2 separate regions of the Homo sapiens genome follow, and region 2 is linked to region 1. The links come from fine-mapping of genetic effects on gene expression. A gene starts in region 1. The other region holds a variant in brackets. All regions are shown on one strand. Distances are from middle to middle. Region 1 holds the start of STX11 (syntaxin 11). Region 2 overlaps STX11 (syntaxin 11).

Evidence for each region. PIP is the estimated chance that this variant, and not a neighbour inherited with it, causes the effect. A credible set is the group of variants that fine-mapping cannot tell apart.
Region 2: its variant is the best candidate, but not a certain one, in a credible set for the expression of STX11 in whole blood (TOPMed, PIP 0.83).

The regions. Positions count from the first base shown.
Region 1 is chr6:144,148,558-144,153,938 of GRCh38, reverse strand. STX11 (syntaxin 11) reads right to left here and starts at 3,422. Exons shown (of 2, transcript NM_003764.4): 1 at 3,236-3,422. RefSeq lists a silencer at 3,296-3,735.
Region 2 is chr6:144,184,651-144,189,999 of GRCh38, reverse strand. STX11 (syntaxin 11) reads right to left here. Exons shown (of 2, transcript NM_003764.4): 2 at 1-3,377. The coding sequence starts at 3,372. The coding sequence ends at 2,509. Among named protein-coding and RNA genes, the nearest start is that of TRL-TAA1-1, 29 kb to the left of the region's middle. RefSeq lists an enhancer at 3,027-3,527. The variant T/C (reference allele first, on the strand shown) is at 2,544.

The sequences.
Region 1 (5,381 bases):
GCACTGATTATGTGCCAAGTACTGTGTGAGCTCCTCACCACCCTTTAGCCCAAACCTATTCTTCCACCGAGTAGGATATTCTTATCCTAGTCATTCATTAGAAACATGGGAGTCATCTCAACTGCTCCTACCTCCTCATTACACACACCCGACAGGGTTCCACCTATTAAACCTCTACCAGCCCCTTCCCTCTTTTCCCATCTGCATTGTCACTGCCCGATTCAGGCCTTCTTCAATGTCCCATCTGCAATATGACAACAGTTTCCACGGTGTCTTCCTAGGGTCAATGTCACTCTCATCTAATCTAAGATTTTTAAAATTCCAAGTTTTGTTATTATTTTTTAAACACATACCTGACAATATCATTCACTTGTTCAAAGGCTTCAGTACTATTAAACCCTCATGGGGCCTTTGTGATCTGGCCCTTCCTGTCTCCGTAGGCCTCCCTCTGTGCCGTCACTAAACAGGCTGGAGTTTCCTGAACGTCCAGTGCTGTTTCACTTCTCTATGGGTGCTGTTCCTTCTGCTGGGTCACCTACAGCAGACAATTCCACTTGCCTGACAATTCATCCTCCTACGTGAAGGTTCATTATTCCATCAATAAACACTTTCTAACACTTATCATGAGACAAGCCTGGGCCAAGTTCAGGGAGTACAATGCTGAATGACAAACTCGACCCTTTCTTTCTCATAGAAAAAGTAACTTTAGGGCTCTCAAAGGAGGAATAAAGTTTGGAAATTAAGGTAAAGTTGTCTGAAATTTAGCATTGTTGCCTTTACCAGTTGGATATCTTAGCAAACTGGGGAAACTTGGAAACCTTGATACTTGGGCATCCAGTTCAAAAGCATCTCAGCAGATTTCAATTGCAACAGTAAACTGTGATACGGTAGATTTATTCATTTTGGCTCACACGGCTATAATGTGATAAAAAACATTGATTTGAACTACAAAAACAATGATCATAAACTCGCTTCAATATAGTGTTACCAATGTATAAACTATTAGGCAGGGCATGGTGGCTCACATCTGCAATCCCAGCACTTTGGGAGGCCAAGGCAAGCAGATCACCTGAGGTCAGCAGTTCGAGACCAGCCTGGCCAACAGGGCCGAACCTTGTCCCTACTAAAAATACAAAAATTAGCCGGGTGTTGTGGTGGGTGTCTGTAGTCCCAGCTACTTGGGACGCTGAAGCACAAGAATTGCTTAAACGCAGGAGGTGGAGGTTGCAGTGAGCCAAGATTGCACCACCACACTCCAGCCTGGGGCAACAGAGTGAGACTCTGTCTCAAAAAACAAAACAAAACAAAACAACCTATTAATTAGTCACACCATTTCCTAAAAGTCATGCTGTTAACTAAAGGTGACTGCAATTGTCCAGGGGTGATAATCAGCTGAATTTCGTTTTACATGGTTATTAAATAACATGAAACATGGTTCATTCAAGCACTTTAAAAACCATACCTTTCAAATTCATACATTTTTAAATCATGTATCAAATGAAGAATAGGCTGCCTACAAAGACAAGTAAATGACTAAACTCAAAAGTTTCCTTGCTCTTCCAGCCATGACCCAGTCCATTCCAAATCCCAGATCTTCAGAAACATCAGTCATATTGGGACAGAAACTTTTCTCTGGGTATAGATTTACCCTAGCACCTATCTCATTATATTGAATTTTCCAGCATATTTAAATAAACTATTAATTAGTCACACTATTTCTTAAAAGTCACACTATCAACTAATCGTGACCGCAATTATCTAGGGGTGATAATCTGCTGAGTCTACTCTTTAAATACACTGGGACCCAGCATATTGAGTTATATTGGCACAGAAACTTCACTCTGGGTATAGATTTACCCTAGTACCTTGCCGGCAGGATCCTATTATTCATGGTTGTACAAGCAAGGTTCAGGGAAGAGGCTGGCACAGAGAAGGTACCTGGTAACTGTTGTTTGAGGCTGAATTCAGCTCAACTCAGCTCCAGTAGAGATGGTGTCCCCTTCTCTACCGTGTTGAGATAGTGTGCAGTCCCTTCCTAAGGGCTGTTACCCACCGCAATAGGACTTGTCAGCTTCAACTTTTAAATTTCTCTGCTCCCGCTGGGACCCACCCGCTTCAAAAATCATCATGTGGTTTTAGCACCAATTTAGTAAACACAAACTGTCTGAAATATTTTGATTTTAGAGAGTTACTTACAATCACCACATTAAATGATACCTTTCTCCCATGCAGTGAAAATGACAGCAAAATGGTCATTGAATAATGAAATTAATTTTCTCTTGGGCATCTGTGGCAAAGCACATGATTTCAATGGTTATCTTAGATCAGCCCAGTGACCTTTACTGGCATGTTGTAACATCAGGCGCCTTAGGAAACTGAAAACTCAATCGTCACTTCCCATACCACTGCCCCAGGTTGGCAGGGCAGGCATTTCACATCTAGAGTCTCATTTTAAAGCAAGCCTCGCTTTTCAAAAGTTCATTAACAAAGTCTCACAATTAAGAGAGCAGCCCTGTGACTCATTTTTGGATACCTGTAAATAACAGCTCCTCCCTCTGCTGAGAAACGGCTGAAACAAGTGCGTGAGAACCACAGGAAGTAATACAGATCTCAGCTGGTGTCAGCGGAGTCTAGAAAAAGGCAGAATTCCCTCTCAGGACGGCGTGGCTCTCGCAGGCATTGCCACTACTTCTCTCCATGTTTCTAAAACAAAGTCTTACGTGGGCTTCGAAGGGACTCCTCGAAGGCTCTATCAATTTCTCCGTCTTTCCTGGCTACTGAGTGACACCGCCAAGTTCAAGTCAAGAAGTACCCATTCTGGTGTTTTTGACACAGTCACCCTACTAGGAAGTGAAGAGGTGATAATAAAAAAACACTCCAGCCTTTCGATTTAAAATAAAAGTAGTCTTGGGTGGACACTTTATAAAGGCAGCCTACCAACAGGTATCCCTAAAATAATTCTTACGAAGCACTAAATCCTAAGTCCCTCAGCCTCTGAAATTAAAAGTAATTTTAAAAAATCATTCTGCTTTATATGAGAAACCCAATGCTGTGTTTCCGAAGGTGCCCAGAGGCGGCGTGAGGACCTGCGCCAGATCCAAAATCCCACCTAAGGCACAGCCGCGGGTCCCGAGCCTAGACAGTGCCCCCGCCCCGACCCGCCCTCCCCGATCTCTCCGCGCACGGGGAAAATAGTCAGGAAGAGAAATGGGGGCTCAGGAAGAGAAAAACAAACCTGGACTGGGAGCGAGAGTGCGAACCGAGAAGCCCCTCTCCCGGCAGGGCGCGCGTCCCCTGTGGGCGCAGCGATGGAGAAGGAAACCTGTTGCGCGACTCCCGGCGGCTCCGCTCCCGGCGCCTCCTGCGGCCGAGGCTGAGTTCCTCCACGGCCGCCCGAGCTCCGCGCCGCCGCGGCCGCATCTGGGCGCCGCCGGCTCAGCCCCCGCCGCTTAGGAAGCGACCACAGCTGGGGACCAGGCCCCGCCCCGGGATGACAGCGCTGGGGCGCGGCGGCAGCCGGCTCACAGAGCGCGGGTTCCCGCCCCACCCAGAGTCCATGCGCTCGGGACCGCCCGGAGCCGGGGACGCGCTCCAGCCCCTCCCGCAAGCCCAGGGGCGTTCCCGCGGGCTGCGCGGACCGGCGCGGGGAGTGGGATGTTTGCCGCCCAAGACACTTCCTCCGCTCGTCCTCTGGTCCCCAGGGCAGGGAGCGCGCTGGACTTCCCCCGGGAATCCCCGCTGCGCTGGTGACATTTGCAGTCCGGTGCGTTGCCGCGGCGAGGACGCTGGAAGCCGTCTCTGAGCGTGGGTGTGGCTGCGGAAGCTGCGGCAGGTCCTGCATCCCTGGGACCCTCGAGGACGCGGGCGAGGAGCCTGCGGTCACACGGAGGCCGAGCACCGCCTTCCCAGAACCCTGCCGACCAACCTCTCTCCAGTCGGCCTCAACACCCGCCGGGCTCATCATTCTCTGGATATCAACTGAGCGTCCCCTTGTGTGCCCACCGCGCTCAAAAATACTGCCAAGACCCACCCTCCAGGTCCCGGCACTTTAACGGGGAGGGATAAATAGAAAGTGTGGATTGTGCCAGGTGGTGGTAAAGCACCTTGAAAAACAAGGCTGAGGCTGAAAAGTAAGGAAGTGATACTCAAAAAAGGAAAAATCGGGCCGGGCGCGGTGGCTCACGCGCGTATTCCTAACACTTTGGGAGGCCGAAGGGGGAGGATCTCTTGAGCCCAGGAGTTTGAGACCAGCCTGAGCGATGTGGTGAAAGCCTATCTCTACAAAAAATAAAAAAATTAACTGGGCGTGGTGGCGCACGCTGTGATCCCAGCTGCTCGGGAGGCTAAGGTGGGAGGATCACTTGAGGCTGAGAGGTCAAGGATGCAGTGAGCCGAGATCGCGCCACTGTACTCCAGCCTGGGCGACAGAATGAGACGCTGTCTCAATTGAATGAGAAGAAAAAAAATAAAACTAAAGAACGAATCCTGCCTTGATGGCAGAATGTTTAGACACAGGAACCACCTGAAAGCTCCCAGTTGCCAAAGATGGAACCATTTGAGCAACGAAGTAAACTAAACAAGGTAGTATTGGATTACAAGCCAAAGTAAAAAAATCCATGAGTCTACACTGATATAAATAAATAATTGAATAAATAAATAAAAGGCGGAGAGGAGACAAATCTCCTATACAGAATAATTCCAAATAATTTATGTAGATCATGTACCCTAGGCTGTGCACAGTGACTTCCTCCAAAATAGTACAATGTGGAAAGGGAAAAACAGTAGGTTTACAATGGAGAAAGCCGACAGACACTACCCCAGCCAGATGTTCTAAGCCAACGTCAACAATCGTGACTCATTGATGGCATGTAGTCAATATGATGTGATGAATGTGGCATATTACATGTGTGGTCTCCCTCCTGGAAAACCATAACCTCAGTCTCATAATGAGAAAAATATCAAACAAATTCCAGTAGTGGAACATCCTACAAAATACCTGACCAATATTCCTCAAAGTTGTCAGGTTATCAAAAGTAAGGAAAGTACAGTCCAGACGTGGCTCACGCCTGTAATCCGTACACTTTGAGAGGCTGAAGCGAGAGGATTGCTTGAGGCCAGGAGTTCGAGGCCTGATCTGGCCGACATAGCCAGATGCTGTCTCTACAAAAAATAAAATAAAATAAGGAAAGTCTGAAAAACTGCCGCAGCCTAGAAGAAACTCAGGAGACGTGAAAACTAAATGTAATGTGGTATCCTGGATGGGATCCTGGGACAGAAAAAGGACTTGGGGAAAAACTAAGGAAATCTAAATAAAGCATGGACTTTCATTAGTAATAAGAATCAAGGTTGATTAATTAGTTGTGAGGAATGTAATGTAAGAT
Region 2 (5,349 bases), 36 kb before region 1:
AAAATGCTTTATGGGTTCAAACATGTCAAATTTATGAACTCTTCGTTTTTTTGTGGAAACTGGCTGGCAGTCTCTATTTACAATATCTCTCCTCTATTATAAAAAACATTGCAGTGGAGCTATGTGAACATTTTTTCCCCTTTCCCTTAGAGAAAGCAAATTAAGTCAAAGGTGATACATATCCTTGGAGTTGGCTGAAAAAGAAATTGGGAGAAATATGAGAATAGCCTTGTGGAACTTGGTTTCCACAATTCTCAAATTTAACCATGAAATTAAAATTAGATACAGGGGATAGATTTTCCTGGTCATAAGCAAGTCAGGCAGTGAGCTCCAAAGAATTCACATACTCCTCCTTCTAATTCTTTTAAAATTCCAGCTTCTAAAGGACCTGAGAAATATGATCACTACTAAACTCACTCATGTATTAAATAATGATTAGGAAGAGCTAAGAGTTGACACAGAGGAAGGCCAGGAAACATGGTAAATGTGGGTAAGGGCATTAAGAAGTTTGCAGACTACACCATATCTCTAAAGCCTCATGATTTTGCTAAAGTATTGTAACTCAGGAGAGAAAGCAAGACACCCTCATGGGAATTCTTTTGAGTTTTTCATTCTTTTCCCCCTCCACTCAGTTCCATCCAGATGTGGCAGCCTCAGTAGCTAGTAGAAAAAAAATTTGGCCAGGGTCAGTGGCTCAGGCCTGTAATCTCAGCACTTTGGGAGGCCAAGGTGGGCGGATTGCTCAAGCTCACAAGTTTGAGACCAGCCTGGGCCACATGGCAAACCCTGTCTCTACAGAAAATACAAAAATTAGCCGGGCATGGTGGCACATATCTGTAGTCTCAGCTATTTGTAGGCTGAGGTGGGAGGATCACTTGAGCCTGGGAGTTTAAGGCTGCAGTAAGCCATGATTATGCCACTGCACTTCAGCCTGGGTGACAAAGGGAGACCCTGTCTCAAAAGGGGGGAAAAAAGGCCAGGCATGGTGGCTCACACCTGTAATCCCAGCACTATGGGAGGCTGAGGCGGGCGGATCACGAGGTCAGGAGATCAAGACCATCCTGGCTAACACGGTGAAACACCGTCTTTACTAAAAACATAAAAAATTAGCCAGACATTGTGGCACGCGCCCAGAGTCCCAACTTCTCAGGAGGCTGAGTCAGGAGAATCGCTCGAACCTGGGAGACAGAGGTTGCAATGAGCCAAGATCCTGCCACTGCACTCCAGCCTGGGCAACACAGTGAGACTCCATCTCAAAAAAAAAAAAAAAAAAAGGAAAAAGAAAAATTTTAACAATAATTGAGAAAGTAAACTAAATGGTCAAGCCAGAAATGTATAAAAATATGTGTATAATGTAATGTTTATTAAGCTTGCTTGAAAAACAGAATTCTTTTACTTTGAATTTCTCCATTTCAATGCATGGAAGGAATGGTCCACAGTAAAACAAAAGCAGTATTTCCAAGAATGTTAGTTGTCTCTAGCTCCGTATACATTTTCTACCGCCATATGTCTACCGCCATAACCAATGCAGAGTTGTTTAACATGAAGTTTGACCCAAACTGGACTAGGAAGGGGCAAACTGGAGTGAAACAAACTCAAAACAAGCAAACCAATACCAAGAGCCAGAAAAGTGTTCGTCTTGAAATTTATATACCATACTTACATAAAAGAAGTTAAACCAATTGATCATTATGTACATATATTAGTGAATATTAGTATTTTACATTTACATACATGTGCATATGTAATCAAGTAAAAATATAAATGTTAAATAATTTTTATCAGCGAAAAATACACAAAACATGACTGATACTTCAATTTGAGTGCTTGTTCGATATTCAGTGCTTAAAAATGTTTGGAAAAATAATACCAAAATATAACCTGGTGAAAGATATTTAAAAAGTGAAAGAGATAAGAAAATAGTAAGTGTTTGGTGTGATTTTAATAAGTAGGGGAAATGAGCAGAAATAAGATCTATATTTGGGGAGGAATTGCATAGCGTAGACCGGATGAAGAATCGGAAAGGAAGAACGTGGTTTTTCCCAAGGCCAATTTCGCTCAAAATGGAACAGAACCAGGGAATTTTCAGGACAAAGTAAATGAACTGAAGTTTCCATCATGAGTTCATTCTATTAGCAGATGCCCAATTGACTTCCTCCTTGAGTCTTTATTAGGAGGCAGGCCTCAGACATTCACCCTACAGTCAGATACAACTTCAGTTCCTTACTTGGCTTCTGTCAAGACGGTAAGAGTGCAAGGTGTCATATAATGACATTGCACAACTTTGTGGGAATCTATCTTTACTGAAGAATCATCGGACGGTATCAACTAACCATCTTTCCAAGCACAGGCTGGTTTGCAATTCTTGAACCTGGCGTTTCTTTTCTAAAGACTGAGTTCCGGAAAGGGTTGGGGCAACTCCCTGCAGGGCAGAGCTCCCGGCTTTGGTGCGTCCTTCCCAGCGCGCTCCATGGTCTGGGATGGGCGGTGGCGGCCCGGGCCGGCCTGCTACTTGAGGCAGGGACAGCAGAAGCAGCAGAGGG[T/C]CCGGCAGGGGTTCTTCTCCTCGTACTGCACGGCCTTCCGCACCTGCGCCTTGGCCTGGCCGGTGTAGTCGACCGTCTTTTGTACGTTGAGCTCGATGACGTTCAGGGTGTCGGCCTGCTTCTCCACCAGCACCGCCATCTGCAAGAAGAGCTCGTGTACGTCGCGGATGCGGCTCTCCAGGCGCAGCAGTTCGCGGTGGCGGCTCTCGATCTCGTTGAGGGCGGCCCGCGCGCCCTTCACGTCGGCCAGCAAGTTCTCGGAAAACACGTCCCACTTACCCTGCTCGAACATGTCCTCGATCTGGTCGCCCGAGACTTCCTTGCCCATGATCTCCAGCTGGCGCTGGATGCGGATCTTGCAGTTGTCGCGCTGCTTCATCTCGGCCTGGTTGTAGTCGTGCATGGCGCGCTGGAAGGTGAGGGTGAGCGCGTTGTACTGCGCCCGCGAAATGCGCGCCACTGCCGAGTGCGGGCCGTGCTGGGCCTCAGCCGCCTCGCTCAGCTCCTTCATGGCGCGCAGCTTGCAGTGGATGACCTCGCCCCGGGCCTTGATGGCCTTGGCGATGGAGTTGGTGTCGCGCTTGATGCTGCTGAGGCGCCGCATGGACGTGAGGAAGCGGGCGTTCTGCTTTCCCAGCCGCTTCACGTCGGCCACCAGCAGCTGGTTTTCATCCTGAATGTCCCGGATGTCTCGGTACAGGGACTCCAGGATGTGGTCCGTCTCGAACACGATGTCCTCGTGGGGCGAGTCAAACTCATCGTCCCCGTCTGGGAACTGCTGGTCATATTGCTTGGACAAGTCCAGAAGTTCTGCTAGCCGGTCTTTCATTTTGCCTGCAAGTAGAGATAATGAAGTTAAATTTCTCTATTGAGAGTCAAATATTTGCCTTCAAGGGATTGAAACTTAAACATTTTACTCAGCAGTCCCAATTTTGTATTCCTCGGTGTGGGCAATAAGTGCACTAAAGGAGCTAAATGTTCTGACATTTTGCTTACAAGGAAAGAAATAAGATGACTGAACAACATGAAACAGTTGTGTTTTAAGGCCTATAGGCACCTGCAGTTCAATATCATAGCCGCGCAGAACTCAATGAGCAATTTAAAATTTTATTTATTTATTTATTTATTTATATATATTTTATTATACTTTAAGTTCTAGGGTACATGTGCACAACGTGCAGGTTTGTTACATATGTATACCTGTGCCATGTTGGTGTGCTGCACCCATTAACTCATCATTTACATTAGGTATATCTCCTAATGCTATCCCTCCCCCCTCCCCCCACCCCACAACAGGCCCTGGTGTGTGAAAATTTTAGATTGCATTGGGAAACCATCTCTTTTCATTGCTTTATGTTTTCCAATCATTGCAAATTAAAACAGACACAGAAAAAAAAAAAAAGAAAAAAGAAGAAGAAAGACTTGCAAACTTAAGTATTTTTAATTGAGGATAATCTACAAGGCTTTGGGGCCAACATCTAAATGTTGCCTATTTTGTGTCTATTTCGGCACTGGGAAGCATCCCCTCCTGTACACACTAACAACTCTTAAAACAGTTACCATGCAAATCATGATTTAAATTTTTTTCTCTTGAAGATGTTGTAAAAGTAAAACATGCTTGAAGTAAAATGACAACAAAATACAGAAATCTAAGTGTAAAATTTAGAAGTTGAGGTTTCCTTACTCCTCTTCTCAATATCATTCCCTAATGATAAGCATCGTAAATAACACTGCTTTTTAAAATGCTTTTATGTGGAAAATTCCAATCATACGTGGCCTAGTAGCAATACTACAACACACTCCCATTCATTCATCATGTAGCAGCAATGTTTGCCCACTTTTAATAGCTTTTTGAAACAAGTTGGCAGCTCAAGCAGAATGTTCATGTTTTTACAAGGATGGTTCTGGTAATTCCTCTGCTTAGTAAGGCAAAGTAATAGTCTCTATGTTCATATTGCTTTTCAGTGAAGTGAAAAACTTTCATTTTTAGTAGCATGTATATATGCTAATATAGGGAATATCTTGTGTTTATACACAAGACTTCATGATGAGAAAGATTCTTTTTCTACTACACAATTTGCAGCAAAGAGGGGAAAAGTAGTAACACTTAATGGTTACGCAATCTATCAGGGTTCTTGGTCTCAAATTAAAAGCTTCTTTCAAGTTGAAGTAATTAATTTTATATCACCACTAATGGAATGCTGACAAGTTGGATTTGGTGGTAAATGGAAAATGGTGAAATATTAACCACGGCCTTTCATCTACCATGATCATTATTTACATAAATTAAGCAGAAGTTTTATTCTATGATGGTGATTTTTAATGTAACAATGTAAGCTGCTTAAAGTGCCATTTCTGATATCTGGTGGCTATAATCAATACCAGACCTTCTCACGGATGGGGAAGGTGATTCTCCTAGCAGTATGGTTGACAGGCAGAAAAAAGATCCACCCTGGACCAAAACTATGCCTTCACCTGGTCTGAATTTCTTGATATTCAACTGTTTCCTCACTTTGAACAAAATTGAAAGACAAACCACCAACTGGGGAGAAATTATAATATATGACAGACAAGAGGTTAAGATACTTAATATATATATTTCTAAGCTACCAAAAAATCTACTTACCCAAAGACAGTGAAGCAATTCAGAGAAGATGTAAATGACAGAGAACATAAACGTATGTTATATATGCCTGATATTTTCTAGGCATCTTTCATGTGATACCCTCTTTAGTCTTCATACAGATTCTATGAGTAGGTACTGCCATTATCAGAGTTGGTGTGAGCATAGGGAGATCAAGGAATT